Linked DNA regions of Homo sapiens. The protein of the gene in region 2 purifies or fractionates together with the protein of the main gene of each other region. This does not show direct contact. Each region holds a gene or a part of one and is shown on either strand. Other genes may lie near its edges.

Region 1 (4,786 bases), on a different chromosome or scaffold from region 2:
CCTTTATTAACCATATTGGCCTAGAGGTTTCTGCGGTGATGATCCGTGTGGCCGTGGCATGGGAGGGCTGGCTCATCTGCGTGGGGTCTGGTAAAGGCTTGGAGGAGATGCAGGATCAGGCACAGTGAAGTTATTGGGGCTGTGATGTGTTTCAGTCAGGTCACTTGGACAAACTGCACTCTGAGATTGCACGCAACCCACTGTTGGGTTAATGTGTGCAGTTGGTTCCATTTGTAAAAGGTAAATTTAGATACTCGCTGTTGTGTACACAAGGTAAAAGTTAATGTATTATGGGGTGAGCACAGGTACCTCCCTCCACCCTTGAGGCCTTAGGGTTGCCAGGGACCGCCAGACTCCAGAGTTCCTTGGGAAAACCATGATGCAGAGCAGGGGATTATAGGTAGGGTGAGACAGGCTTACCTGGGAGCGTGCCCGGGCTGAACACCAGCCTCCATCTCTGAAAAGGCCCCCTGGTAGGGTCAGACCCACACACCTGTCCAGGAATCAGTGATTGAAATCTGGGGTTCCCAAGCTCTAGCCCACAAGTCAGTGGACTGTGGCTGCACCACGGACAGCCCCAGTCTGTGTGTCACCCCCATCTTCCCTAGCTCTGAGGGTGAATGTGTGGACACGGTGAAAGCAGCTGTTCTCTTCTCTGCTCAGTGTGCCTCAAAAATTGACATCAAATGCAGTTGTTTTTCAACATATTTATGTGAAGTGAGTTTTTTTTGCCAATGACTAAGATTAAAAAGAAAGTAAATTTTGGGGATTTAATTGTATTTTAGATCATAGAAAAGTTGATAAATTTGTGATGAGAGAAAATTGTATACATATTGTAAAATAGGACATTGTGATTTTTTTCTGCTTTCTAAGTATTTAAATATATCCCTTAAACAATATATTTAATTTGAAGTTGCCTCTCATCCTCCTTTAGGAAAGACTTTTATTCTGAGCTTTTCTCTTTCCTTGATTTTAGTCTTTCATGAAATGATATTAAAAATAGACTTAATAACATTTTTTTAAAAACCTGATACAGGCTCCCCAGTTTTATTATTTTATTTCACTCATCCATGAAATCCAAAGGTTTGCTCCTTGACCTGGAAGACAGGTGTAGACTGAATCAAAGAATGATAAGGTTTAAACTTCCTTCTGGTGGGGTGCAGTGGCTCATGTCTGTAATACTAGCACTTCAGGAGCCCAAGGTCAGAGGATTGCTTGAGCCCAGGAGTTTGAGACCAGCCTGGGCAACATGGTGAATCCCCATCTCTACAAAAAAATTAAAAAATCAGCTGGGCATGCTGGTGCACGCTTATGCTCCCAGCTACTTGGAAGGCTGAGGTGAGAGGCTCGCTTGAGTCCTGGAGGTCGAGTTGTGATGCTGCCACTGCAGTCTAGCCTGGGTGACAGAGCAAGACCTTGTCTCAAAAAAAAAAAAAAAAAATGTAGATTAAAAGGAACCCTTGCAGACTGTTGGTGAGAATGTAAATTGATGCAGCCGCTATGAAAAACCCCACTGCACTGCAGCCTGGGCAACAGAGTGAGACCCTGCCTCAAAACAAAAAAATAAATAGGCTGGGCGCGGTGGTTTACACCTGTAATCCCTGCACTTTGGGAGGCCGAGGCGGGTGGATCACCTGAGGTCAGGAGTTCGAGACCAGCCTGGCCAACATGGTGAAACCCCCATCTCTACTAAAAATACAAAAAATTAGCTGGGCATGGTAGTGCGTGCCTGTAATCCCAGCTACTCAGGAGGCTGAGGCAGGAGAATCGCTTGAACCTGGGAGGTGGAGGTTACAGTGAGCTGAGATCACGCCACTGCACTCCAGCCTGGGGAACAAGAGCAAAACTCTGTCTCAAAAAATAAAAAATAAATAAATAAAATTGCTTCTGTCACTGGCCCTAGCAGCTTTGGCAAATCTCACCACTTAGGGCCTCGAACTCCTCACCTGTGAATGAGGGACCTGACCATGGTCATCCCTGAAGTCCCAGCATTTAACTCGTAACATGACAAAAAGCAAACCAGGGCTGGGCACAGAGGCTCACACCTGTAATCCCAGCACTTTCAGAGGCCGAGGTGGGTGGATAGCTTGAGATCAGGAGTTCGAGACCAGCTTGGCCAATATGATGAAACCCCGTCTCTACTAAAAATAGGAAAACAAATTAGCTGGGCCATGGTGGCGCATGCCTGTAGTCCCAGCTACTTGGAAGGTTGAGACAGGAGAATCGCTTGAACCTGGGAAGTGGAGGTTGCAGTGAGCTGAGATTGCACCATTGCACTCCAGCCTGGGCATCTCAGTGAGACTCCATCTTAAAAAAAAAAAAAAGAAAAGGAAAAAAAAAAAAAAAGGCAGCATGGTAAGGCCGGGTTTTTATAGATTGGGTCTTTGGAGTGTGCTGTTGGCCTTGGCCACATAGCTGTCTCCTGCCATGCCCTGGCTTTGTGGGGCGCCTAAACCTGTTTTCAGATGATGATTTTGAGTGAGATACAAGTGTAGCTACTTGGAAAAGATTCAGTAGCATCCCTGAGCTATAGTGATAGAAACCCCGTCCTTGTCCCTTCTGTGGAGCAGCCTGTTGGAGCTTCTCTGGGTTGGCCTAGGCCCAGAGATGAGGTCAGCAGCTCAAGGGTCTAGTGTTTTTAGCTGTCTTCCCAGCCCTGCTCCAGAGCCCCCATGTAACCTGCTGCCCTGCAGTGCCCAGCACAGAGCAGTGTCTGTTGAATGCGTGAGTCAAGCAAAACATCAAACAGAATCCTTGACATGGGAAAAACATGCTCCCAGCCACCACCAGCTGAACATTGACATCCAGCTGCTTTCCCACTGGGCAGTGGCTTGTGAAGATGGGGACAGAGTATCATAAATCATCTCCTTTGTGGACAGCAGGGATGATCCTGACCTTCTTGTCACAGACTAAACAGACTAAGTAGCCAGAAGAAAAAAAAAGAAAGAAAGAAAAAAGGGGCTTAAAGGCACTCAGCTGTCAAAATTATAAGGAGGGTTTGTTAAAACTATTTTTTAAAAAAGAAAAGTGGTTAAGTTATGCAGTAGGATATAATATTCTATAATAACTTATTACCAAACTTTTAGCCTTAATCCAGTTGCTATTTTCCTCTTGTCTATTGGATAGACGTATGGAATGTTCTTTTTTTCCCTAAATTTAGTCATGTGCATTTTTTTTCCTATTTATATTGTGGGTTTTTTTTTTTTTTGAGATGGAGTCTTGCTCTGTAGCCCAGACTGGAGTGCAGTGGTGCAATCTCTGCTCACTGCAACCTCCGCCTCCCGGGTTCAAGCGATTCTCCTGCCTTCCAAGTATCTGGGATTACAGGCATGCACCACTATGTCTGGGTAATTTTCATATTTTTAGTAGAGACGGGGTTTCACCATGTTGGCCAGTCTGGTCTTGAACTCCTGACCTCAAGTGATCCACCCACCTCAGCCTCCCAAAGTGCTGGGATTACAGGCGTGAGCCACCGTGCCCTGCCTATATTGTGGATTCTATGTAGATGTTCCAGTGGCTTTTAGGAAGGTCTTTATGATTTCACACATCTGTCTACAGTCATGTCTGCAGAGCAGACTCTCCCCACTCCCTCTGCAGACAGCTGTAAAACATTGTCTTTCATCTCACAGGTATTAGCTTCCTACATGAGTAAAATCAGGTTTAAGTGAATAAAAATTGTGCATCTCTTCCCATGTACCAGGGAAGTATTTTTGGTGCCTCCAAAGACCGAGCACGGTTCACGCCTCTGCTGGCCTTCACACCGCTGCAGCCACACAGTGCAGAAGCCTGCTCCCTGCTGCCCACAAGCATGAGGCAGGTGGGAAGGGGGATGCTCGTGCCACCTTGTAGGCGGGCAGGCAGTCTCATGGGCAGAGGTGTACACAAGGTGGGTGATGAGGAAGACAGCTCTAGGGTATGAATGATCAGCTGCTGAAAAACATCCAGTGCTCAGTGTGGGTACTTAGAGTTATTCTCATAAAAAATGTGAGGCAGAGTTAGTCAGGTGTGGTGATGCATGCCTGTGGTCCCAGCTACTCAGGAGGCTGAGGCAGGAGGATTGCTTGAGCCCAGTGGTTTGTGGCTTCAGTGAGCCATGATTGTGCCACTGCACTCCAGCCTGGCTGACAAAGCGAGACCATGTCTCCAAGAAAAAAAAAAAAAATTTCTAAAAGTACTTGCTGGGTTACACTAAATGAAACCTAAAAAACAAATAGATAAATAATAAAGGTTACACACAGCAGAAGCTTTGTTAACAAATTAACTTATATTAATAGTTGCTGCTGGGAAAACAAGCTGCTTGGTGACTTCCCTAAAGGGTGTCCCACGCATCTGGCGAATGAACAGACAGAGCTCCTGCTCCCGAGTGTCCTGGGAGGCACGTGGGCATGCCGCGTGGGTGGTCTGGGTGCTGCAGCGTGAGTTGTCCTGGGTGTGGAGTGTCAGTGCCTGCAGACCCACACTGCCTCCTCCTTCAGGGCTCACTGGCAGTTTTCTTTCCACCGCTTCAGTTTCCTACTTGAAGTCAGGTTTAAAAAGGAGAAGAATTGCACATTCCTCCTCAGTTTCTTAGAAACTTACCTTTGTGCCTGAGTCATTTCTAGTCCCTCTGGACCTGAGTCATATCTGTTCGCTGCTTTGTCAACCTTGTGCCCAGTTTAAGCTTTCGTAGTTGCTCCTTGTATGTGTGTTTTCAGGGTGTGGAGCGTTTTCTTTAAAAACGTCATTGCAAGCCATTACAGAAGAGGAAAGTCACATAGCTACAGAAGACATGGAAAAACAGATTTAG
Region 2 (3,906 bases):
CCAAGATATTTTCCTTTCACACCTTTGATGCGAACAAGCTGTTTGTTTGCTATAGTCCTACTTGTCTATTCTTGCTTTTGTTGCCTGTGCTTTTGGTGTCAGATTGATGATATCATTGCCAAAACCAATGTCAAAAGGTTTTCCTCTATGTTTTCTTTGAAGGGCTTTACATTTTCAGTACTTACATTTAGGCTTTTAATCCATTTGAAATTTATTTTTGCATATGGTGTAAGATAAGCAATTTCTTTGCAATATGGATGTTCATTTTTCCCGTCACTGTTTGTTGAAGAAACTGTCATTTCCCCTTAAATAGTCCTGCCACCCAAAGACCGTTTAACCATATTTGCAAAGTTTATTCCCAAGTTCTCCAATCTGTTTAATTGGTCTATATGTTCATCTTTATGCCAGTGCCATATTGTTTCAATTATTGTAGCTTTGTAATATATTTTGATATCAGGAAGTTTGAGGCCTCTGGCCTTCTGTTTCTTGCTCAAGATTTGTTTGGCTATTCAGGGCTTTTTGTGGTTCCATGTATATTTTAGTATCATTGTTTTCCTAATTCTAAAATGCCATTGAGGTCTTGATAGGTATTGCACTAAATCTGCAGATCACATTGTGAAATACAAATATTTTAACTATATGAAGTCTTTTAATAAATGAATATAGGAGGATTTTTGCATGTTGATTTTGTACCCTGCAACTTTACTTGGTTTTAGGAGGCTTTTTTGTGGATTCTTTAGAGCATGCCATAGGCAAACAGGGACCATTGTACTTCTTCTTTTACAATCTGTATGTTGTTAATTTCTTTTCCTTGCCTAAGAGCTTTAAGTAGGACAAGGGTTAAATAGAAATGGCAAGTGCAAACATCCTTGCCATGTTTCTGATGTCAGAGGAAAAGTTCAGCTTTTTCCATAGCATGATATTAGCTATGCACTTTACATATAGGGCCTTCAAAATGTTGAAATATTTTTCTCAAATTCTAGGTTGGCAGGAGTTATCATCATAAAATGGGTATTAAATTTTGTGAAAACTTTTTTTCTGAATCTATTGAGATGCACAGGTGACATTTATCCTTCATTCTATTAATGTGGTATATTACATTAATTGATTTTGTATGTTAGGCTATCCTTGCACCCCAGGGATAAATGCCACTTGCTTATGGCATATACTCCTTTTAGTGTACTGTTGAATTAATTTTGCTACTACTTTGTTGAGGATTTTTGCATCTACGTTTACTAGACATATTGGCTTATAGTTTTCTTGTGGTATCTTTGACAAGCTTTGGTGTAATGGTAATGCTGGCCACATAAAATTAGTTTGAAAGTATTTATTCTTTTTAAATTTTTATATAATAGCTTGGGAAAGATGGCCATTAATTTCTCCTTAAATATTTGGTGGCTTCACCAGAAGAGCCATCTTGTCCTGGGAATTTTTTTGTTGTAAGTTTCTTGATTACTGATTCAATCTTCATTCTAGTTATAGATACGCTCATATTTTCTATTTCTTCATAATTCAGTCTTGGTAGGTCCTTGTCTTTGTGAATTTTTTCATTTCTTCTAGGTTATCCAATTTGTTGGCCTATAATTGTTCTTAGTTGTCTCTTACCATCTTTTATATTTCTGTGGCATCAGTTGCAATGTCTTATTTCTGATTTCATTTATTTAAGGCCTCTCTTCTTTTTCTTAGTCTAGCTAAAGGTTTGTCAAGTTATTTATATTTTCCAAAAACTAACTCTTAGTTTTGTTTACTTTTTATATATCCTTTCCATTCACTATTTTATTTCTGAACTAATCTTTATTATTTTCTTTATTCTTCTAAATTTGAACTTTGTTTGTTCTTTTCTACATTTCTAGTTGCTTGGGATATGTATTAGTCCATTTTCACACTGTTGATAAAGACTTAACTGAGAGACTGGGTAATTTGTAAAGAAAAAGAGGTTTAATGGACTCACAGTTCCACGTGGCTGGGGAGGCCTCACTATCATGGCAGAAGGTAAAACACATGTCTCACATGGCGGCAGACAAGAGAGAATGAAAGCCAAGCCAAAGGGGGTTTCCCCTTATAAAACCATCTGATTTCATAAGACTGATTCACTACCATGAGAACAGTATGGGGGAAACCACCCCCATGATTCAATTATCTCCCACTGGGTCCCTCCACCAACATGGGGGAATTATGGGAGCTACAATTCAAGATGAGATTTGGGTGGGGACACAGCCAAACCATATCAAGGTATAAAGTGCATTGTTTGAGACCTTTCTTTTTTCTTAATGCAGATATTCATCACTATAAACTTTTCTTTTAGCCCTACTTTTACTACATCCCATAAGTTTTGTTAGACTTTATTTTTGTTTTCATTTATTCTAATGTGTTTTTAAATTTCCCTTTTGATTTATTCTTTGCAGATTGGTTGTTCAAAAATGTATTGTTAAATTATCACATATTTATTAGTTTTCCTTTTGCAACTGATTTCTAGTTTCATTCCCTTGATGCTGTAAAAGATACTTGATATGACTTCAATTTTCTTAATTTTCTTAAGACTTCTTTTATGACCTAACATATGATCTATCCTGCAGAATGATCCATGTGCACTTGAGAAGAATGTATACTCTGCTGCTGTTGGATGGAATGTTCTGCACATGTCTGTAGGTGACTTGACTTGCAGTGTTGATCAGGTCATCTGGGTCTTTGTTGCCTTTATGTTTGGTTGTTCTATCCATTATTAAAAGTGAGCACTGAAATCTCCTACTGTTATTGTATTGCTATCTATTTCTCCCTTAAGTTCAGTCAATGTTTGCTTTATACCTTTAGATACTCTGATGTTGGGTGCATATATATTTAAAATTATTGTATCCTCCAATGTGAATTGACGCCTTTATCATTATGTAATATCCTTCTTTTTTTCTTGTGACAATTTTTGACTTAAAGTCTATTTTTTATAATATCAGTAAAGGCATTTTTTGTTGTCTTTTAGTTATTATTTGGCGAAGGATTTTTGCAGTCTTCTTCAACCTTCATGCTAGTCCAACTGGCTTTCTTTTTTTCTTGGTAGATTCCAGGCATCTAGAATATCCCAGGTCCTGTCAGTGCTCTGAGATAAACAGGAATAAAGCTAGCTCCTCAGGCAATCTCCAGAAAATATGGATTATCAGTTGTTTAGTTCAACTTTTTCCCCCAAGGAGAAGCTGAGAGTTAAAGGTTTTGGTCCACTCACTCCATCTTGATCCAAGGAGTGGTTGAAACTGCCAGCTCACCCCACCATCTATGTTCTTGCTGGTCCCACGCAGCCAGGCTATGCTTGGTTCTATCAGTACACTGAGACAGGCTAGAGAGAAGCCAGTCTTAGGAGTAGCCCCTGGAAAAATTGGGGAATTGGACATGCCATCCATCATTTATTAACCAAGAGCAAAGCTGGGAGCAGGGGAGTTTCTCCCTGGTTTTTTGGCACTGTGCTGGGGGCAGGAATTAGGGAAGGAGTGTACCTTAGATTTCCCTAAGGCTTCAACATGAGTAGTTTCACCAACAGCATTGGAGCATCTCAACTAGTTTCTTAATTTCCCACAAAGAAAATTTGTCTATGAATTTTTAGTTGAATTGGTGCATTTGTAGAGAGAAAAGAGACCAGGGCTTCCCACTCTGTCATCTTGCTAATTTTACTCCACCATTTATTTTATAATTTAAATATATAAAAATAAGATACATATTTATAATTTATGTGTATGTATATGTATATATTTTAAATTTAATGTATATATAAAAACATTTGCTGTATTTCTAAACTGGAATACAATACAATGAAATTTAATTGCATCTTAAATGGACAAAACATTACCATGCGTAAATGGAAAAAATTGTGGCTGGAGTTACCTCATGATGGAGAGAACAAATACCACTGTACACAACGCC
Region 3 (4,786 bases), on a different chromosome or scaffold from region 2:
ACTAAGAGTGGGGGAAGCAGGTGCCCATCCATCTCCTTCTGGGCGGCTCATCCCTATTCTAACGACCAGAATTTAAAGTAAAACAAATCCATGGCTGTTTTTCAGATTTTAAGCTTGAACCCAATCCCTAAAAAATCTCAGCCCCCTAAAAACACTGCAGACAACCAAATGAAATGTATGACCTATGGACGACTTACCAACACACACATAATTCTTCTCATAGAATGAAAGCCAATTGTGAAGTGTCAGCATCTCAGCGGCTGACAGGTCGGATACGTCATCCACGAGGCCTGCTTCAGAACAGTCCCCGGTCACGAAAGCTCTGGATGCGTCTCGGCCTGGAACAGAGATGTTTCCATCAGACCCAGGTGTAAACCACTGACACCATCCCCACTCAAGAATCTGTTTTCTTTCTTTTTCTTTTTTTTTTGAGACGGAGTCGCACTCTGTTGCCCAGGCTGGAGTGCAGTGGCATGATTTCAGCTCACTGCAACCTCTGCCTTCCGCTTTCAAGCCATTCTCCTGCTTCAGCCTCCAGAGTAGCGGGGATTACAGGCGCCCGCCACCACGCCTGGCTAATTTTTGTATTTTTTTAGTAGAGATGGGGTTTCACCATGGTGGCCAGGCTTGTCCTGACCTCAGGTGATCCGCCCACCTTGGCCTCCCAAAGTGCTGGGATTATAGGTGTGAGCCACCACGCCTGGCCAGAAACTGCTTTCTGAGAAACGTCTCTTGACAAGCCCTACTCCTTATCCCCAGGGAAATGGGGTCCCCACCACCTCCTCTGTGAAAGATGCTCCTAGACCTTGGACACACATCTCTTTGGCATTGGTCATATTCTTTCTTTTACCTTCGGCAAACTTTAACACAGCTGACCACTTCCCTTGGCCTGATTTTCCTCCTACTTCTCCAGCTCCTCACTGTCTACCAGCCTTAGGGGTCAATTACTGTCCACACCCTCACACTTGACAATCTCATCCACACCTGTGGTTTCAAAGCCCACCTACAGGCAAAGATAGCCACATCTGTATCTTTAGCTCAGATGTCTCCCAAGGCTCACACCTGTATATCCAACAACACTTAGACGTCTTACAGATATCACAAGATCAAAATGTTCACACTGGCTGGGCGTGGTGGCTAATGCTCATAATCCCAGCTCCTCAAGAAGCTGAATAAGGAGGACTGCTTGAGCCCAGGGGTTTGAGCTATGACCATGCCACTGCACTCCAGCCTGCGTGACAGGGTGAGACCCCATCTCTCTTAAAAAAAAAAAAAAAGTCCACATTGAAATAGTGATTATCAGCACCCTCACAGCCAGGAAACCTGTATCTACTCCAGTATTGCCTGTCTCAGTAAATGCCAACCAGTTGCTCAATCCAGGAATGCAGTTCTTTTTTTTTGTGCATGAGACGGAATTTTGCTCGTCGCCCAGGCTGGAATGCAAAGGCACAATCTTGTCTCACTGCATCCTCTGCCTCACGGGTTCAAGCGATTTGCCTGCCTCAGCCTCCCGAGTAGCTGGGACTACAGATGCGCACCAACATGCCTGGCTAATTTTTGTATTTTTAGTAGAGATGGGCCAGGCTGGTGTGGAACTCCTGACCTCCGGTGATCCACCCACCTTGGCCTCCGAAAGTGCCGGGATTACAGGTGTGAGCCACCGCATCCAGCCTGGGGAATGCAGTTCCCCATTTTTTTTTTTTTTTTTTTTTGAGACTGAGTCTCGCTCTGTTGCCCAGGCTGGAGTGCAATGGCGCAATCTCAGCTCAATGCAACCTCTACCTCCCGGGTTCAAGCCATTCTCCTGCCTCAGCCTCCTGAGTAGCTGGGACTACAGGTGCCCGCCACCACGTCCAGCTAATTTTTGTATTTTTAGCAGAGACGGGGTTTTGCCACGTTGGCCAGGCTGGTCTCGAACTCCTGACCTGAGGTAACGTTCCCGCCCTGCCCTCCCAAAGTGCTGGCATTAGAGGCGTGAGCCACCATGCCCAGCCTGCAGTTCCTAACACTTCCTTCATCCCTCACATCCAGTCTCCAAGTCCTGTTATTTTCTGCCTAAGCAGTGTTCTTGTGTCAGTCTGCCTGTCTCCACCCACATCTAAGCAAGCCCAGGCTGCCATCCTTTCTCACCTGAACTCCTACAGCAAACCTCAAGGAAGCCCTCCCTGCATTCATTCTTGCCCCACCAATCTGCTCTTCATACCACACTCAACTGATACTTTAAACACAAACTGATCACATCATTCTCCTGCCAAAGAATCCTCAGAGGCTTCCCTCTGTTCTATGAGAATGTCCAAATTCCTTAACACGTCATTCATTGTCCTGCACCAGCTGCCACCAACGCTGCCTTGCCAAATTTCTGTTTGTTTGTTTTTGAGACAGAGTTTCGCTCTTGTTGCCCAGGCTGGAGTGCAATGGCACAATCTCGGCTCACCGCAACCTCTGCCTCCCAGGTTCAAGCAATTCTCCTGCCTCAGTCTCCTGAGTAGCTGGGATTACAGGCATGCGCCACCATGCCCGGCTAATTTTGTATTTTTAGTAGAGATGGGGTTTCTCCATGTTAGTCAGGCTGGTTTCGAACTCCCAAACTCAGGTGATCGGCCCACCTTGGCCTCCCAAAGTGCTGGGATTACAGGCGTGAGCCACCACACCTGGCCACTGCCACGTTCTTTATTGTTCACTTTGCTCCCTTCCTCTCCTCCTCTTCAAATCGGTTACAGCCTCTGGTAACACCAGTACTTTTCCTTTTAACACTTTTCACAAAAATAATACATTAATTGTGTAATATCTATTTAATATCTATTTAATGTCTGTCTTTTCTACTAGTAAGTTTTATCAGGTAAGACAACACACCAAACTCATTTACTATGGATTCCCCAGTGTCTGGTACAGTGCCTGATCTTTAGTAAATTCCCAGTAAATATCAAACGAATTAAATACATAGTTTTTTTCTTTTTTGAGATAGAGTCTCGCTGTATCGCCCAGGCTGGAGTGCAGTGGTGCGATCTTGGCTCACTGCAACCTCTGCCTCCTCGGTTCAAGGGATTCTTCTGTCTCCAACTCCCAAGTAGCTGAGACTACGGGCATGGACCACTGTGCCCAGCTCACACAAACATTTGTACATGAATGTACATAGTGGCATTATTTATAACAGGCAAAAAAAGTAGAAAGAAACCAAAAATCCATCAACTGATAGATAAAATGTGGTATATCCATATTATTAGAATTATAGTATCTATAGAATATTTTCAGCCATAAAGGAATAATGCACTGCTACATGCTGGTACACCATGGATGAACCCTTAAAACATGATGCTAGGTGAAAGAAGCCAGACACAAAAGGCCACACGTATGACTCCATGAAATGCCCACAATAGGCCAATCGACAGGAAAAGAAAGTAGATAGTGGTTGGCAAAGGAAGGAATAAGGAGTGACTGCTAATAGATAAGAAGTTTCTTTCTGGGGTGAGAAGAATGTTCTAGAGTTAGTGGTGACATTTTTACAAATTTCTGGCTATACTAAAAAAAAAAACCCACCGGGCCAGGCGCGGTGGCTCAGGCCTGTAATCCCAGCACTTTGGGAGGCTGAGGTAGGCAGATCACGAGGTCAGGAGATCGAGACCATCCTGGCTAACACAGTGAAACCCCGTCTCTACTAAAAATACAAAAACTTAGCCAGGTGTGGTGGTGGACGCCTGTAGTCCCAGCTACTCGGGAGGCTGAGGCAGGAAAATGGCATGAACTCAGGAGGCGGAGCTTGCAGTGAGCCAAGATTGCGCCACTGCACTCTAGCCTGGGCGACAGAGTGAGACTCCATCTCAAAAAAACAAAAAAAACACTGAATTTTGGCTCATACCTATAATCCCAGCACTGTGTGAGACCTAGGCAGGTGGATCACATGAGGCCAGGATTTCCTGTCCAGCCTGGCCAACATGGCAAAACCCCATCTCTATTAAAAATAAAAAAAATTAGCCAGACATGGTGGCACACGCCTGTAATCCTAGCTCCTCGGGAGGCTGGGGCACAAGAATATTGAACCCGGGAGGCAGAGGTTGCAGTAAGCCAAGATTGCGCCACCGCACTCCAGCCTGGGCTAAAGAACCAGTTTATCTCGAAAAATAAAAATAAATAAATAAAAAGGTTGGGGGCAGTGGCTCACACCTGTAATCCCAACACTTTCAGCGGCTGAATCACTTGAGCTCAGGAGTTCAAGACCGGCCTGGCCAACATGGCGAAAACCCATCTCTACAAAAAATACAAAAATTAGCTGCACGTGATGGTGCACACCTATGGTCCCCGCTACTTGGGAGGCTGAAGTGGAAGGATTGCTTGAGCTTGGGAGGCGGAGGTTGCAGTGAGCCAAGATCATGCCACTGCACGCCAGCCTGGGTGACAGAGGCAGACCCTGTCTCTAAACAACAAAAAACCCCACTGAATTGTATACGTTAAAAGGACTTTACATCACGTGAATTACATCTCAATGAGAAATAAAATACTGAATGAACGAATACGTGGACATAACTGCTTCCCAACTAGACTGTGTGGGCGGTGGGGAGCATGTTGCAGACATCTTGGATTCCACAGCCCCTGACACAAGGTAGGTAGTGGTAAATAAAGATGGTCAATGAATACCAGAACACGGGAGCTCAGTAAACAGCAGAGCACACTGAAAAATAAAAAGCACTCCAGACATCGAAGGTTTTATGCCCACACTTGTGCAAACATCCAACGACAGCTCCCACAGCACGCAGCAGGGCAGCGCAACGAAAACTGCCTTCAACTAGCA
Region 4 (4,786 bases), on a different chromosome or scaffold from region 2:
CACACATGGCCCACGGCACCCAGCCCAGACTTGTTTGGGGGTGGAGGGAGGCGGTACCCAGGTTGGGTGCTGGGAGGCAGGTATGGGCACCTAGAGCCTCTGAGGAGAACTTGGGGCTCTGAGGGGTGGGGGCCCGGCCAGGGTCACCAGGAAGGAACTAGCCATGTCAGGCCATGAGGACGCAGCCTCCACCTTCCCAGCTGCACCATCCAGCAGCTGCCCACAAAGCCAGGCTCAAGGAGGCACCTGGCCCAGGGAGCAGAGGACAGGCTCCACCCATACCTGCCTCCCTGAGAACGGTCCTCCTTGGGACTAGGGGTGGGAAGGGGAAAATTGGGAGAAGGAATGGGGGCAGGAAGAAGGGGAAGAGTTGGTAGAATCTCAACCCAGAAGCAGCCTCTTCCCATAGATGGGCCCAAGCCCAACTCTGCAGTTCCCTGTTCTGTACCTCAGTTTCCCTCTGTGGGACTGGGGTGAGGAGGCAGGGGAGACAGGCCAACTGGCACCCAGAGGAACAGCTGTGTCCTGCTGCTCCCTCAGCAAAGCTCTGACCCAAACGGTGCCCCTGGGGCACAAGAGGGTGAGTGCTGGGCAGCAGGAACAGGGTAGGGCTAGAGGAACCTGGTCACTGGCTGGGTAACAGGCTCTGGGGCGCCCCACAAAATGTCTCTAAGCTGCTGCACTGGGCTTCCACACAAGCACGGTCCTCTGTCTGGCAAAACCCACTCCAACACCCACCCCATGCGCTCGAGAGCCCTGTGTGCCTTCCAGTGTGAGGAGAGGGAGTGCAGGCTGAGAGGACGGGAGGGGCCTCGCACCAGAGCCACAGGGCGGTACCCCACATGGGGGCCAAGAGGGAAGTCACAGCAGAGGACCCAACTCAGGGGTCACAGGACTTTCCCCATCAGCTTCAGCCTCATAGCCACTATGAGCAGAACCAGCAGGACCCCAGGGCACCCCCACCCTGGGGGGCCTACAATCAGCAGCTGGGCCCCCACGGGCCCCAAGACCACCAGCACCCCCCGCCCCCAGCCCAGAGCCTGAACATCTGGCTTATTTCACAGAGGGAAGCTGAGGCTGCAGGGGATCCCCTCCCAGAGATCACAGAGCCAGGGAGGGGCAGGACTCCCCACCACTCCCAGGGCAACTACCATGGCAGAGATGGGAGGCCCCCTTCCTAACACTGGGCACCGGGCTGAGAGCTGCAAGCCCTGGCCAGCCCCCGGCCCAGCCCCACTCGCGGGCACACATGGGCTCAGGGGAGCTGCATCGGCACCAGCCTCTGGTGCCGGTTATGCACCCCAGGACCCACCACTGCCCACTGGGCCTCTGGGGTGTCCAAGTATCCCCACCCTTCAGTCTCTCCGGGAGCTTCCTCCACACCAGGCCAGCCTGGTGCCCACCCCAGCCCAGGCAGCTCCCCTCCACCCACACCCTCCAGGAAGCTCTGCACTGCCTCTGTCCAGCCCACTGTTCTGGGGAAGGAAAGGAGAACCCTGAAGACCAGACAGCCATCCCTGTAGCACCTAGCCCTCCCCCTGCCACCGTGGGGCCAGCCCAGGGCTGTGTGCTGGAGCTCCTCAAGCACCAGCCAAAGACAGGCAGGGGCACTACCCTTGCCCTGCCCTTGGCCCAGTAGAGGGGCTGGGGAGAGGCAGGGCCAAGGCCTCTGGCCCGGCAGAGTGCTGAGGCAGCAGACACTGGATCTCCTGGCTGGGGAGCAGGGCCCAGAGGGGAGGGGGCCGCGCAGGCCTGCCCTCACCACCCACACACAGCAGCCTCCCCAGGAGGTCAAGTGCCCTTGGAGAGCCAGCCCCCGCCTCAGCATCCCTGGGCCCCTGCACAGGCTCCTGCGTGGTCTCAAAGTGTCCTTGCTTAGTGGGCCTGGGGCCAGTCATGGGCAGAGGCACAGAGGGGAGTGGGGCCCTTCAAGGTCACTGGGCCTAGTGTAGGGCAACATTCCCCCTGCCCCCTGTACGCCAGATCTAGCCTCCCACAGCATACAGCAGCACTGGGCCTGCCACCTGGGACGGCCGCAAGCCTTTGTTCCTGCCCCAAGCCCCCTCCTCACCCCACCCCACCCAGGCCTGACCTTGCGGATGCGGCCACTTCGCGTGCCGGCGAATACCACAGTGCGGCCCCGATAGTCATAGGCAGCCACGGCGGTCAGGCCATCATCCTTGTCCACGAACAGGGGCGTCCCCTCAATGGTGACTGTGCCCCCCAGGGGCTGGTTGAAGTCCTGCCCGCAGAAGTCGTCATCGATCTGCAGGGGCTGTGGGAAGGGGCAGGGTGAGAGCCACTCCCCGGGCACCTTCTCCCGGAGGACTGGGCCTCCCTGGGCAGGGCTGGGAGTGCAGTTGTCTTTCTAGAGAGGTTGGGGGTAGCCCCCAGAGGAGAGGTGCAGACAGAGAGGGTTTAAGACAGGAGGGAGCAGATCACACCTGAAAGGCAGAGGGCGGGCTCCCAGCTAAGAGCACGAGAAAGCAATCAATAGCTTGAGGTTCCGGAGCAGCTGGGGGCCAGTGTGGAGGGGGCGCTGCTCCACCGCCAGGCCTAAGGAGAGGGCAGGGCAGGCAGGGAAGGGATGTGGGGAGAAGTGGGGCAGATGGTCCTTGTCTGCAGAGGGTTCATTGGCAGGGGCCAGGCTGCTCAGGAGGAAGGAGCAGGGGAGGCTGGGCCAGGGCTAGGCCACATGGAATGAACAGGTGGGAGGGGGCAGTGGGGACTGTCCCCAGGGATGAAAGAGCAGGCCCCAGCCTTGGGGCAGGGCACAAAGAGAGAGTGTGGTGGGGCTTCACCCAGGCTCTGCCCCTACAAGCCTCAGTGTCTCCATCTGTATGGTGCAGAGAAAACACGTTCCTTGAAAAGCCAAGGGGAGGGTGGACAACCGCATCTGCCAAGCACACATGGGCCCTGCCTCACACAGGCAGTGAGCGTGAGACGGAAGGACTGAGGGGCCCTTGCAGTCCCACTCTGCCCTGAGGACAAAACCAGCAACACCCTCAGGTCAGACATGGGAGACTACAGCCAGAGAGGGCGAGGCCTTCCCCTGCGATGGCCAGCGACCCCCAGCAGCAAGCCCAGAAGGCCTGGCCTCGGGGGTCCCAGGTCTGGGCCGAGTCCCAGCCCCTTCACTTTCCACCCTAAGCAAGGCCCGTGCCCTCTGAGCCTGCCCAGGAGTGTGAACAAGACACTCCCTGAAAGGCAGCGAGATAGAGGCCCCACCCCAGCTGTGCCTTCTGATGGGTGCTGGGGGCTGTGGCTCCCTGCAGTCAGGGTCACTTTCTCTGCAAGTTGTTAACTGTGGCCTGCACCAGGACACCATCAGCTCCCATTGCTGGGCAAAAGCAGAGGCCCAGCGGGCAGGTGCCACCAGGGTCATGTGGGGGACACAAGCGCTCCATGGAAATGGTGTCTGGGCTCACCTGATAGGCTCTGGCACCAGCCTCTCACTTGCTGTGTGACCCAGGGCAAGTTACCCCACCTCTCTGATCCTATAACCTCATTTGTAGGATGGGGACAAGATGGAGCAGGCAAGCACCAGGTGTAGGACCAGGCATGTGGCTGGCACTCTGTCCAGTGTCCCACAGGGGCTGTGGACTATGCCAGCAGGGCCTCGTCACCCCATCTTCTGAGGCACAAGACAGCATCATGGCTGGGAGCAGCCTTTGGGGCTAGCACCCTGGGTCCAAACCCACTCTCTGGGGGATGGAAAAGGGCAGCCCCACCTAGCTGAGCCATGGGGATGGCCAAGCCAAAAGCCAGGCCAGGCACACAGCAGGCACCACTGGGCGTGCATCTGACACCGATGCCGTCGTCCCTGGAGGGGATGGGGCCGCGGGAGGAGGGGCGCCCCTGCCCAACTCACCGAGTTGATGCAGCCCAGCTCCTTGTTGAGCAGCCACGGCAGGGAGAGCTTGCCCTCACCACGGTAGCAGGACTGGATGCGCTCCTTAATCTTCTCCTTGATGGCCCTGAGCGTGAACAGGCACAGTGCTGACTCCTTTGGTGGCTTCACGCGGTTCTTCTGGCCCTGGGCGAACACAGTGAACAGCACGTCCTCGTCCTCAGCCAGGCCCAGCTGGTGGGCCAGGGCACGGCCGGGCCGGCTCAGGTAGGCATCCTGCACCAGGCGGTACTCCACACCCGCCTGCTCGCAGCCAATGGGGAACTCAACGTACGAGTAGAATTTGGGGTCGTCCACACAGAGCCGCACGATCTTGGACGTGAAGAAGTGCTCGCCGGCGGCATCAGGCGAGGTCAGCTGTGTGTCTAGCTGCAGCGTGAGGTAGTAGACAAACTGCTCGCTGCGGAAGCTGTACACATAGTAGATGTCAAAGGCCGGGAACTTGGACAGCGTGTCCGAAGGGATCTTGAGCTGTGATGACACAAACTCATCCTGGTACACGAAGCCGAACATGTCGGCATCCTCCTCGTTGGCCATGAGCCGACGGCTGGACAGTGTGGGGAAGTACTCGGACTTGCCATCGATGGGTGTGCCCACGAAGAGCTTGGCCTGGCCCTGGCCCGGTGGCCCGGCAATGAGCACGCCCGCCATGCTGCCTGCCTCCTGCACGCTGGACAGGTAGTGCTCCTTACGGTGGTGTGGCTCACCCAGTTTGAAGAGATCGTCCAGACGCAGGAACTGGCAGATGCCCTGGGAGGCGCTGCCACAGGCCAGCAGGCGGTTAGCGGCATAGTCCAGCAGCAGCAGCTTGTTGACGTTGTCAGTACTGCCCAGGCCGTGGGGGCAGGACTGCACGCTGGGCGGCGGGTAGCACTT
Region 5 (4,059 bases), about 100 Mb from region 2:
ACTAAAAATACAGAAGTTAGCTGGGCATGGTGGCACATGCCTGTAATCCCAGCTACTTGGGAGGCTGAGGCAGGAGGATCACTTGAATCCAGGAGGCGGAGGTTGCACTGAGCTGAGATTGCACCACTGCACTCTAGCCGGAGTGACAAAGCAAGACTCCATCTCAAAAAAAAAAATTAAAATTAAAAAATTAAAAATAGTAGCCAGGTGGGGCTGGGTGTGGTGGCTCATACCTGTAATTCCAGCACTTTGGGAGGCCGAGGTGGGCAGATCACCTGAGGTCGGGAGTTCGAGTCCAGCCTGACCAACATAGAGAAACCCTGTCTCTACTAAAAATATAAAATTAGTTGGACGTGGTGGCGCATGCCTGTAATCCCAGCTACTTGGGAGGCTGAGGCAGGAGAATCGCCTGAACCCGGGAGGTGGAGGTTGCGGTGAGCCGAGATCGCACCATTGCACTCCAGCCTGGGCAACAAGAGCGATACTCTGTCTCAAAAAAAAAAAAAAAAAGTAGCCAGGTGTGGTGGCACACATTTATAGTCCTAGCTACTCAGGAGGCTGAGGTGGGAGGATCTCCTGAGCCTGGGAGGTCGAGGCTGCAGCGACCTGTGAGTGTGCCATTGCACTGCAGCCTGGGTAACAGAGCAACACCCTGTCTGGGAAAAAAAAAAACAAACAAAAACAGGCTGTTAGCTTTGATGCAAAATAATGTTTTGTTGTTGTTGTTGTTGTTGTTGTTATTGTTTTAAGCAGGCTGGCCGGGTGCTGTGGTTCATGCCTGTAATCCCAGCACTTTGAGAGGCCAAGGCAGGCAGATCACCTGAGGTCAGGAGTTCAAGACCAGTCAGGCCAAAATTATGAAACACCCCATCTCTATTAAAAAAATACAAAAATTAGCCAGGTGTGGTGGCAGGCACCTGTAATCTCAGCTACTTGGGAGGCTGAAGCAGGAGAATCACTTGAACCCCGGGAGGCAGAGGTTGCAGTGAGCCGAGATCGCGCCACTGCACTCCAGCCTGGGCAACAAAAGCGAAACTCTGTCTCAAACAAACAAAAAGGCTACAAAACCATATATAGAGTGTGGCTCCCGTTTTTGGAAAAAATAAGTATATATAAAAAAACTATAGAAGGATAGAGGAGAATATCCACCAAATATTAACTAGTGGTGACTAGATGGTGGGATTCTAGGTGCTCTTACTGTCTTCTCTTTTTTTGTTCTGAAAACAGGTAGTTTTTCTGCCATGAGATAAATTATTTGTGTAGATTGTTTTTAGTGAAAAAAAAAAAAAAAAACTAGGCTGGGTGTGGTGGTTCATGCCTGTAATCCCAACACTTGGGGAGACCAAGGCAGGAGGATTGCCTGAGTCTAAGAGTTTGAGACCAGTCTGGGCAATGTAGTGAGACCCTGTCTCTACAAAAAATTGGAAAGTTAGCTAGATGTGGTGGTTCTTGCCTGTGGTCCCAGCTACTCAGGTGGCTGAGGTAGGAAGATTGCTTGAGCCCGGGAGGCGGAGGTTGCAGTGAGCCAAGATCACGCCACTGCACTCCAGCCTGCGCAACAAAGTGAGACCCCGTCTCCAAAAAAATAATAAAAAAAAGAAGGAAAAAGAATAAATAAAACAAGAAAAAAAAAGGAATACTTAGAACCTTTTCTGATGCCTTGTGACTTTCAGAATTTAAAATCCCCCTTGCAGATAAGGCCACCCACGGCGGAAGGCCGGGAGCGAGACGGGGCTGAGGGGACCTTGCTCCCATTGGAGCTGCAGGGCAGGAAGGGGTGCTGCGGTCAGCAGAGGGCACCCTTCGCCTGCGCCGTGTGCAGTGCCTGCAGTCACTCCCTCATTCCCAGGAGTAGCCTTGGGTCAGATGCTGGCTCAGATCTATAACTGCTCCTGTCTGGTAGCCAGGCCTGCCCAGATGTGCAATGGCTGGAATAAAGGGTTCTTGGAAGCAATTTGTTACAGGCACCCTGTGGGCTGTGGCTGGCTGTGGCACACGTGAAGGTTGTGTGTCAGACCTACTCCCTGGACATGGCGCATGGCTGCACACAGGCACCTTGGCTGAGAAGATGCACAGTCCTGGTTTCACTCTCCTCCCCTGCCCTGTCCTGTCTGCTTCCACCCAGCTCTGCAGGCCACCAGCCCCCGCCTCTCGTGGCCACCCCCAGCCCAGCATGTCCTCAGCCGCACATCTCCTGTGTCGACAGGTGAAGTCCCGCTTGGCTTTTGGGAAGCCCCTGGTGGAGCAGGGCACAGTGCTGGCGGACATCGCGCAGTCGCGCGTGGAGATTGAGCAGGCACGGCTGCTGGTGCTGAGAGCTGCCCACCTCATGGACCTGGCAGGAAACAAGGTAGGGGCAGGGGCACGAGGGGGCCTCCCAGAGGCAGAGATTCTTCCTCCTCACTCAGCAAAGCATGAGAGCCTGGCTTCTTGACATTAGAAACTTTATTTCACCTCTACTTGGAGCTGTTTGGGCAGTTTTTCAAAAATTGGAAAGGCACAAGAAGAGAGGACTGGCCTTTGTGTTTTACTGACCTGGTGAGCTGCTTAGTCCAAGGCAGTGGGTCTGATGGGGCCACAGGGCCCCTGGGTGGCCCTGGACTCCCAGGGCCATTGGTGGAGGTGTTGGGCAACCTAAGAGTAAGGCAGGGAAAAGGGACCCTCTGCTGGCCTTCATCTGAATATTGAATTAACAAAAATAGAAGCTTATTTTCAAGTGTGACATTAGTCATTCACTAAGGCTCTTTTTAACCTTTTATTTATTTATTTTTTGAGACAGGGCCTTGCTCTGTAGCCAGGCTAGAATGCAGTGGTACATCATGGCTCACTGAAGCCTCAGCCTCCCAAGTAGCTGGGACTCCAGGCGCAAACCTCCATGCCCAGCTAATTCTTTATTTTTTGTAGAGACCGGCTCTCACCATGTTGCCCAGGCTAACTAAGGCTCTTTCTAAGTGCCTGTGATGACCAAGCACAATGCCATGTTGACCTTGCTTTGTCCAGCTTTCTGTGGGGCAGCCTCCAACCCCACCCAAGACCCTCAACCATCAGGGACCAACCCATGCTCATGCTCACAGTTCCTGGTTCTTTGACGCTGGCGTGCTAGATATGGTGGAGGCTGCTGGGTGTCTCCCTTGAACACCCTGCCCCAGGGCAGATCACTGTAGCTCGGTTTCCCAGAGCCCTGAGTGGCCTTGGTCCACTGCTGCTTGGAGGCAGAGCTGGCCGTGACCCTGAGCAAAGCACAGGACCCTCCCCTTATCCCTTCAGTGTGTGCTGGCTGTGTTCCCCGTCATCTGGGAAGACAGCCACATTCTGCCAGCACTTGCTTCGCATCTTGTGACATAAGATAATAGTTGCCAACATGGCGCCCTTCATCCCTGGGTGCTGTCAAGCCGTACACCAGGCAGGGGCAGCCTCACCCAGCTCACATCAGCGAGACCTTGGGGCCTCTGTTTTGGACGGTGGTGTTTGACTTCTTGCTGGGAATCTGATCATTCTTCCAGGCTTTCTGCCTTCGGGTCTTTTTTGTGGTTTAGTTTTTCGTTTTGTTTTTGAGAGACAGAGTCTCACTCGGTGGCCCAGGCTGGAGTAGAGTGGCACAATCTTGGCTCACTGCAACCTCCGCCTCCCGGGTTCAAGCAGCTCTCTTGCCTCAGTTTCCCAAGTAGCTGGGACTACAGGTGTGCACCATCACGCCCAGCTAATTTTTGTATTTTTTAGTAGAGACTGGGTTTCACTATATGTTGGCCAGGTTGGTCTCAAACTCCTGACCTCAGGTGATCTGCCCGCCTCGGCCTCCCAAAGTGCTGGAATCACAGGCCTGAACCACCGCGCCTGGCCTGTTGTTTGTTTTTGAGAGGGGGTCTCACTCTGTTGTCCAGGCTTGAGTGCAGTGTTGCAATCTCAGCTTACCACAGCCCCCAACTTCCCAGACTCAAACAATCCTCTCACCTCAGCCTCCTGAGTAGCTGGGACTACAAGCACATGCTACCACACCCTGCTAGTTTTTGTATTTTTAGTAGAGATGGGGGACGGGGGGGCCTCACTCTGCCACCCAGG
Region 6 (4,786 bases), on a different chromosome or scaffold from region 2:
TTTGTTTCTTTTTTTAATCAATGAATATTTGTGCCCATTGATAAAAGATGAACAACTTCTTAATTTGGAGACCATAAAGAAATCTAGTTAGAAAATACTACTAATAATCAATCTTAAAAGAAAATTCTTTTCATGACCAACAACAGGCAGCTGACATTATAACACTGGGAGTGACAGCTGCTAACACTACAAAATGTATAAGTACAACTTAAACACCCACTACATAAAGGTAACTCCATGATTACACATGAGATATAATTCAATATATAGCTAATTTCCAATTCAAGTAGTCTCTAAAATAATTGGGGTTTTCTCTTTAAAAGTCTTGTTCATGTATAATAGACTTAATATTTTACTAGTAAGGTGATTTTTACTATTTAAAAAGATTAGCCATCATATCTATTGACCAAATACAAAACTGGCATGGAATACAGTATTGGATCCCACTCCAAATCCTTCCAGTAGAAATTTGGAACTGTAAGCAAAAAGAACATGATGTGAGAGGCAATCCCGCAATGCAAAAAGTCTAAAGACACTTTGTCTTCAATCATTTTTGTGTTGTTTTTCCTTTTTCACATATATAGCTATAATACTCACTTATGCCCACAGCTGTAATGAGCTTGATCGCAAGTTCAGGGATTTCACATTGAATAAAAAATGGTTCCAGAATGTAGCGTCCAAATGCCAGGGATATCACAGCAGTAGCTGCAGGGCTAAAAAAAAATGTATATATTTAGGTTAACCACAGGGGAAAAAACTGCATTTTCATTAATTTTTTCTACCTTGAGTGTATTTAGCATATGGAACATGTTAAATATGAAAGTCCATAGTTTTCAGAATTCCGTACTTGATTAGGTTGCCATAGACATTCCAAATGAAGTACTTCCTGTAACACTGGTGGCTAGATTTTAAACTTCACATATTCTTGGGAACAAGGGTAAGTACTATCAACTTTTCCCCTGCTCTCCCATATTTGACTTTTCCTTAAAAATCTGGTTTATTACATGAGATCTTGACAGAGCTAGGCTTACAGGAAGCCATCTTCTTTCTCAAAAAGTCAGTAAGTAAACTTCAGCCATATTATGAATTAATTAATGCCATACAGATCTAATGTGTCAGGGCATAGTCAAAAGAATGAACACAACACTCAACCTAAAAAATTAGTATTAAGTGTTCCCTGCAAATACATGCCTAAATATTTGACATTGTTTTATTTTTTCTGTACAGACAAAAACTCAAAGTCAAGTGATTATTCTTAATCCTATAGTAACATTCAGATATAAAATATAAATTTAAAAATAATAGATTTATTATAATCTGATACAATTAAGAAAATATAAATGAGACAAGAATATGAAATAAATTCAGGTATATAGAAATATAGGTAATACATCTTTCTATTTTAATTCTTCAAATATTTTTATGAGAAAATTGCACAGACCTTTTCATTTTAGATGTATGTATATATGAATGCATATTTTTTCCATAAACATGCAAGTCTGTGCAATTATCTAATTTCTTTTTTTTTTTTTTGAAATGGAGTCTCACTCTGTCCCCCAGGCTGGAGTGTAGTGGCACGATCTCAGCTCACTGCAACCTCCGCCTCCCGTGTTCAAGCAATTCTCCTGCCTCAGCCTCCTGAGTAGCTGGGATTACAGGTGCATGCCACCATGCCTGGCTAATTTTTTGTATTTTTAATAGAGACAGGGTCTCACCATATTGGTCAGGCTGGTCTCGAACTTCTGACCTGATGATCCACCTGCCTCGGCCTCCCAAACTGCTGGGATTACAGGCGTGAGCCACCGTGCCCGGCAGCAATTATCTAATTTCTTATGCCAAACTTCCTTTTTAGCTTCTCTTTCTTCTCGTGGTTACCCAACATTCATGCCCGATCCATAGATTATCAGAAAACCAACCAGCATTACATGTTCCCAACTTTGGCCGGCTGATACTGGAGAGCGGCATAAGGTTTTTCATTTTCTTCTTTTCCTAGACACCCTCCCATCTTCCCCAAACAAAACTGTTTATCCTATTCTCCATCATTTATACAATTTTTTATGTATAATTTAAAATCTGATTATGTCATTTTAGTGCTTTCAAAATATGTTCAGGATATGCAAAAAGCCTTCACATTGCATTCAAGGCTCCATCTGGTCTAAGCTCTCCCTACTTCTTCAGTTAGCTTCTTCCCACTAGAAGGATATGAATCTTCTCTGCCTGCAGCCTCTGCAACTAATTGACTATGTTTTATACTTCAGATCTTAGTTCAATTTTCCTTTCCCAGGGGAAAACTTCTCCAACCTATGACTGGGCCAGATCTCTTGGAGTATATTCATACTGAAGCCCTTGGCCTGTCTTCCACAGTGCTTATCACAATAGCAATTTTATATTTACCTATGTGATTTCTCGATTGATAATGATTTCCTCCCACTTGACTCTGAGCTCTAAGGGTACAAAATCATATCTATCTTAATCACAGTTTTACCTCCAGTGTTTAGAACAGTGTCTATCATATAGTGGAAACCCAATATATATTGAATATATAGTGCACACGCAAATTCGGTTTAATGACCCCTGCTGTGTACAGATAGATAATATTTCTGTCCTTGAAATCTGTGTTTTACAGATTATTTCTGGCAATACTAACTTAATCTAAAGGTATAATTTTAATGGGAAGTACTTAGGAACTATGGGTATTAGTAAAAGAAGAGAAATATTTACATACTTAGATATTTTGTCCCTCCTCATGTCATTTGTTATTCTGCCTATTTAAAAGGCCAACTCAGCAATATGAGTATGTTATGACAAAGAGATATATGAACATATTTTAAAAGCTTCTAGAATACAAAGGTACTTTCCTCTGTCAACAGACACACACACACAGAGAAAAGTAGTTTTTTTTTTTAAATTAAAGTAACATTTGATTATCCGCTACCTGGGAGCAGAAATTGTGGCTGATTTCATTTTAGATCTCTTTTTATTGCCATTTACCATTCAGTAGCAGTTTGTGGAATAAATAAATTAATATATGAATATTTTATCTGTGCTACTGTAAGATATAAGCTATATTTATATGGAATGATCATGTTCATCATAATGCTAAGCAATGAGCCAAAGTTACACAACTAATACATGGCTGAAGACGGAGTCAAGTCCAACTGTATTAAGCTCCAAAGCCCGCCAGCCTGACAGGCCAGCAGTCAATAAGTAGTACATGCATTTGAATGCTGAGTATGTTGTACACAATATATTGTAACTTTAAACTTTCAATTACTTATTCAAAAATAATTTAATATATGCCAAAAAAAGGGCACTGACCTAAGTAGTATATGGGTTACAAAAAGATCTTATCTTTGTATGCTTGAAATGTTGGCAGTTTTAAAAGGGAAACAAAATATAGACACCTAAAATATTAAGGAAGAATAGAAGGTATCATGCTCAATGCCAAATGTGAAGCAGAGATAGAATTTTCAGAAGAATTTAGAGATGAAAGAAATAACATAAATTAGAATAAACAGGAAATTAATTGTGGGAAAGAAAGGATTTAAGATGACCTTTGAAGAGCAGATAAGATTGAGATAACCAAAAGGAATAGAAGTGCATTCCTGATAGAGGAATTTCAGGAAAGGAAAAAAATACTTATTATTATTTCATTATAACAATTTTAAATAATGCAGAGTGTTTAAAATGAAAAAGCCTTCATGAAGCATATACTACTTTGAAGATCTTTTTTTGGTTAAAAAAAAAAAGACTTCTAACACTGTAAAACTCATGATTAGTGTTGTCAATACTTACTAGCACTGTATTTGGCACTTAGCCATAAAAGCTCACATGAACTCTCAATCACATATGTTTGATAAGTTTGATAAGAGCAAGTTTCCCTAGTAATATCCATTAAATTCTGTAATCAGACTGTGCACATCACATTTTATCAAAGTAGTTAGCCTTAAGGAACTGTGATACTCTGAAATGCTCATATGACATCATAAGCTTCCCACAAAGTCGAAGGAAATTTGCTATTCAGAGTGACTTAGCACTATTCAGTGTGATTTTAAACCAAGACAAGCAGGAATGTAAACACATTGTTACAACAATAAAATCAAAAAAGACTTTTGGAACTGTAGTTCCTAATCTGTTTAATATAAGGAAATGAGTCATTTGACTCTGTCATGCAAACTCTGTTTTTTATGAAGTATAAGACTTGGTGACCAACTAAGTTGTGAGGCACAGAAGTGTCTTGGTCACAATGACTAAGTAAAGTTAAATGCCTTAATGATATAATCTACAATAAGAGAAAACTTCAATATTTAATTTGGTCTAGTTGGTCAAAAGGTATCCAGGTGAATTTTCATGTTCATATTCTTTCAAGTAAGCATCTTTCTCCTGGAAGTGTCAAAGAGAATAGCTGAGGGTCAAAGAAAGGTAGATATTTCTAAAAGTTTGGCATTGCTGGTGAACTGCTTGTCAGTGATAAAATTGCATTAAAAATATCTTAATTCAGAAAGGTACTTTATCACAGGCTTTATATCCTGAGGTAGACATGTTTATCATGTAGTCACATGACATGCATGTGTCTAACCAGTTAAAAATAATCAAGGTGATTCATAAGAATGAATTGGTTTATTTTTTCTTAATTCTTTCTACTATGCTCTTACCGTATTATGAGGAGTTCCACCCAGACTCGTACAAAAGCTGGTAATGGACCAAAGACTTCCAAAATATATGTGTAATGACCTCCAGATTTCTTTATAGTTGTTCCCAATTCAGCATAAGACAAAGCTCCTGT
Region 7 (3,689 bases), on a different chromosome or scaffold from region 2:
TGGCATGCACCTGTAGTCCCAGCTACTCAGGGGGCTGAGGTAGGAGGATTACCTGAGCCTGGGAGGTCGAAGCTGCAGTGAGCAGACATCATGCCACTGCACTCCCAGCTGAGTAATAGAGAGAGACCCTGTCTCAGAAAAAAAAACAAAAACAAAAACAGTAGGTGGCCTAACTGGAGATATTTAAAACAAATTTTTTAGATGAGAACATTTTATCTTTCAGTTCAAAATTTCAGGTAGAGCTAGGAATCTGGAAATTTGTTTAGAGATTCTCTAGTCGTTGTAACAAAACTGTGATTTTTTTTGAGTTCTTAAAAGTAGCATTCAATCTTATGATTTTTGAGGATCTCAGTTTCAGAATTCAGGTCCAACTGAATATATTTTTATGTGTAGTATCAAATGAAATGTGAAAGTGCTTTGTAAACATCAACATGCTAGGTAACTGTTATCTGGCCATCTAATAATTATATTTGACCTTGAGATAAGGAGACTGCATGAGATAGTTTTACAGTTGAAAAATTAAATACTAAGTTTTAGTTATGACATTTGTATGCTGTAGTTTTTGTGCATGTGGGATTTCAGATGCCAGTATATCTCTCTGCTCTAGCAGTTGTCCACTTGCAACCCAATGGCTCCCCCACTCCCCACTTTACATACAGCATAAGTGCTAGTTCACATCTTAGCTCCATCTTTGTAGTTATTATTATTATTGATTGTAACAGTTTTATTGAGTTATAATTCACATCATAAAGTTCACCCACTTAAAGTGTAAAATTCAGTGGTTTTTAGAATACTCAGAGTTGTACAGCCAGCAAACACTACAGTCAATTTTAGAATATCTTCACTCCAAAGAGAAACCCTGTAGCCACTAGCAGTCACTCCCCTTTCCTCCCAAACTCCTTAGCCCTAGGCAACAACTGCTCCTTTTTGTCTGTAGATTTGCTTATTCTGCACATTTTATATAAATGAATCATACAATATGTGGTCTTTTGTGACTGGCTTCTTTCACTTAGCATGTTTTCAAGGTTCATTTATGTTGTAGCACGTATGAGTACTTCAGTCATTTTGATGGCTAAGTAATACTTCAGTGTATGGATATGGCATATGTCATATATCCGTTCGTTGATGGACATTTGGTTTGTTTCTTTTGGCCATTGTAGCTAATGCTGCAGTGAACATTTGTGTACAAGTTGTATGTAGTTTCATGTTTTCAGTTATCTTGGGTATATACCTAGGAGTTGAATTACTGTATCATATGATAACTCTATTTAATGGTTTGAAGAACTGCCATACTATTTTCTTAAAGTGCCTGAACCATTTTACATTCCTGCCAGCAGTGTATGAAGGTTCCAGGTTTTCCACATTATAATTATTATTTTTTAATAACATTTTCTAGTGGTTAGCATCAAAGATAATATACTTAATACTGAGTACATTGCAGTTGATAGGGAAGTGATGTTCTACATGCTTGGTTCCTGGGCTGCTGGAATATCAGTCTATGGCTAAGTTTCTTAAAAAGAATTCATAAGGCACCAACAGATAAACTGATAACTTTTTTTTTGCCCCAGTCTTTGAGTTGTTCATCTTTTAAAGCATGTTATTGTCCACATTTTCTTTAAAGAAATATAAATTCAGTGACTTTTGGTGTAGTGATTCACTTGAGTTTAATAATGCCGTAAGTATTGTAGGTCATGTGGGCTGAAATGCTTTGATAATTTGGGTTGGGAGAAGAGACTTTTGAACCTAAAGATGTGAGTTGTGATTGGTATTACCTTTTAAGCAGTCATGTTTAATTTTTGATTCTTTAGGAAAGCCAGCCATTGCTCATAGAGATTTGAAATCAAAGAATATCTTGGTAAAGAAGAATGGAACTTGCTGTATTGCAGACTTAGGACTGGCAGTAAGACATGATTCAGCCACAGATACCATTGATATTGCTCCAAACCACAGAGTGGGAACAAAAAGGTATACTTTTGAACAACTATATTTAATATCTTCTGAAATCACCTTTTTTCCCTTCTCTTTCATATATACATATCATTGCTGAAACTCAGCTTAAACTTGCACTTTATTAGATTGCCAACAGGTAAGAAGATCTCATGGTCTTGCCTGCTCTGAAGCCAGAGTTACCTGACTTAAAAAGATGCCTGCTGATGAAAGGTTGCCCTTCCAGAAAATATCATTAGGCATGTTAATTATAATAACAGTAGTAACTAACGTTTATAGGGCACCTACTATGTGCCAATCGTCTAATAGGTCTTTTACGTATATTACCTCATTTAATCCCTTCTCAAATACTGTGCAGTAGCTAGCCCTGCTATTTTCATATTTCAGTTCCTAAAAATATGCCTTTCTTGCTTTCTTAGAACTTTTGCACATGCTGTCTCCTGGAGCATACTTTACCCTACTGTTTCTCAGCCTCATACCCACCTTTCCCGTAGGAAGTTTTTTCTAGTCCTCAAAAATCTTAGGAGTCCCTGCCAGGGACTGTCATAGCACACTGAACTGGGACCGTTGAGGCACTTATGCGTTATGTTGTAACTGTTTATTTATTTGCCTATATATTCTATTAGGTGCAAGCTGCTTGAGAGCAGCCTTGTATTCCCAGCATCCATCACAGTGCCTAATACATGGTAGATCCTCAGTAGATATTTGTTGAGTCCATGAGTCTTCAAAAGAACTTAATTAGGTAGGTGTTATTACCCTTTAATTCACAGATGAGGAAACCACCTTGAGGAGGTTAAATAATATGGCCAGCTTCATGTGGATGATAAGCCGAAGAGCTGAGATTTGAACCTGGGCATTTCTGACCCAAACCCCTTATCACAAGCTGTCACAGCATTTTTTCAAACTACTGTCTTGGCCTTGGAGACAGCTGGAGAGCCAGCAGCATTAGTCTATTCAAATTGCATGTATAATTTTGAGATTTCTGGATTCCCTGGGGACTCTCAATTTTCCCATCCAAGTACTAAGCAGGCCCGACCCTGCTTAGCTTCCAAGATCAGACGAGATCGGGCGTGTTTAGGGTGGTATGGCCGTAGATGACTCTCAATTCTCAACCAGCTAAGGGGTCCTTGTCAGTGGTTGCTGTAGGTCTCTGTGGGTCCTGACCCATAATTTTGGTAGGTTTTTGAAGCTTCAGTATGAGGACTGGCATTCTTTTGTATCTATTATTTTTTTCCCTGGAGTATATTCGTGCCCTTCCTTTCATCCTCAGTGAGAAGACTTCTAAATTAAAATGCATGGTTTCTACCTAGTACGTGTATAGGTGGTGTACATTAGGACACCTTTAACAGTCACAATTGTTATGTATGTCTTTCATTGGAAACCAAGATCATGAGGCAGATAGTGTGAAACTGCTATTTTAGCATTTTGTGGGATTTAGTTGACATCATTAATGTGCAAACCAGTGTGGATATTTAATATTTTTCTTGAGTCTAATATTTGTTATGTAATATTGTGTACATATGTCTATGTATAAAGAAATGTCTGAAAGGAGGTTCATCCAAATATGGCAGTAAGGGGATGATTTTCAAAGTTCTTTTTGCAAATTTTTTTTAGGTACATGGCCCCTGAAGTTCTCGATGATTCCATAAATATGAAACATTTTGAATCCTTCAAACGTGCTGACATCTATGCAATGGGCTTAGTATTCTGGGAAATTGCTCGACGATGTTCCATTGGTGGTA

The links.
Region 1: the proteins of KLRD1 (region 2) and IMPA2 purify together in Homo sapiens (affinity purification with mass spectrometry; one large-scale study listed by BioGRID and IntAct). This does not show direct contact.
Region 3: the proteins of KLRD1 (region 2) and CYB5D2 purify together in Homo sapiens (affinity purification with mass spectrometry; one large-scale study listed by BioGRID and IntAct). This does not show direct contact.
Region 4: the proteins of KLRD1 (region 2) and PLXNA1 purify together in Homo sapiens (affinity purification with mass spectrometry; one large-scale study listed by BioGRID and IntAct). This does not show direct contact.
Region 5: the proteins of KLRD1 (region 2) and ACAD10 purify together in Homo sapiens (affinity purification with mass spectrometry; one large-scale study listed by BioGRID and IntAct). This does not show direct contact.
Region 6: the proteins of KLRD1 (region 2) and SLC7A11 purify together in Homo sapiens (affinity purification with mass spectrometry; one large-scale study listed by BioGRID and IntAct). This does not show direct contact.
Region 7: the proteins of KLRD1 (region 2) and TGFBR1 purify together in Homo sapiens (affinity purification with mass spectrometry; one large-scale study listed by BioGRID and IntAct). This does not show direct contact.

Annotation. Positions count from the first base shown.
Region 1 is NC_000018.10:12,001,341-12,006,126, forward strand, and holds part of IMPA2 (inositol monophosphatase 2), read left to right. Parts: intron 1-4,786. UniProt on the Homo sapiens protein: Phosphatase that can use myo-inositol monophosphates, myo-inositol 1,4-diphosphate, scyllo-inositol-1,4-diphosphate, glucose-1-phosphate, beta-glycerophosphate and 2'-AMP as substrates in vitro.
Region 2 is NC_000012.12:10,326,863-10,330,768, forward strand, and holds the end of KLRD1 (natural killer cells antigen CD94), read left to right. Parts: 3' UTR 1-2,746; downstream 2,747-3,906. UniProt on the Homo sapiens protein: Immune receptor involved in self-nonself discrimination.
Region 3 is NC_000017.11:4,145,443-4,150,228, reverse strand, and holds part of CYB5D2 (neuferricin isoform 1 precursor), read right to left. Parts: exon of another isoform or gene 4,370-4,786; coding exon of another isoform or gene 4,162-4,369; intron 339-4,161; coding exon 198-338; intron 1-197. UniProt on the Homo sapiens protein: Heme-binding protein which promotes neuronal but not astrocyte differentiation.
Region 4 is NC_000003.12:126,988,873-126,993,658, reverse strand, and holds part of PLXNA1 (plexin-A1 precursor), read right to left. Parts: coding exon 3,872-4,786; intron 2,276-3,871; coding exon 2,093-2,275; intron 1-2,092. UniProt on the Homo sapiens protein: Coreceptor for SEMA3A, SEMA3C, SEMA3F and SEMA6D. Necessary for signaling by class 3 semaphorins and subsequent remodeling of the cytoskeleton. Plays a role in axon guidance, invasive growth and cell migration.
Region 5 is NC_000012.12:111,751,566-111,755,624, forward strand, and holds part of ACAD10 (acyl-CoA dehydrogenase family member 10), read left to right. Parts: intron 1-2,206; coding exon 2,207-2,350; intron 2,351-4,059.
Region 6 is NC_000004.12:138,231,670-138,236,455, forward strand, and holds part of SLC7A11 (cystine/glutamate transporter), read right to left. Parts: intron 4,783-4,786; coding exon 4,656-4,782; intron 714-4,655; coding exon 598-713; intron 1-597. UniProt on the Homo sapiens protein: Heterodimer with SLC3A2, that functions as an antiporter by mediating the exchange of extracellular anionic L-cystine and intracellular L-glutamate across the cellular plasma membrane.
Region 7 is NC_000009.12:99,142,924-99,146,612, forward strand, and holds part of TGFBR1 (TGF-beta receptor type-1 isoform 1 precursor), read left to right. Parts: intron 1-1,808; coding exon 1,809-1,965; intron 1,966-2,573; exon of another isoform or gene 2,574-2,689; intron 2,690-3,561; coding exon 3,562-3,686; intron 3,687-3,689. UniProt on the Homo sapiens protein: Transmembrane serine/threonine kinase forming with the TGF-beta type II serine/threonine kinase receptor, TGFBR2, the non-promiscuous receptor for the TGF-beta cytokines TGFB1, TGFB2 and TGFB3.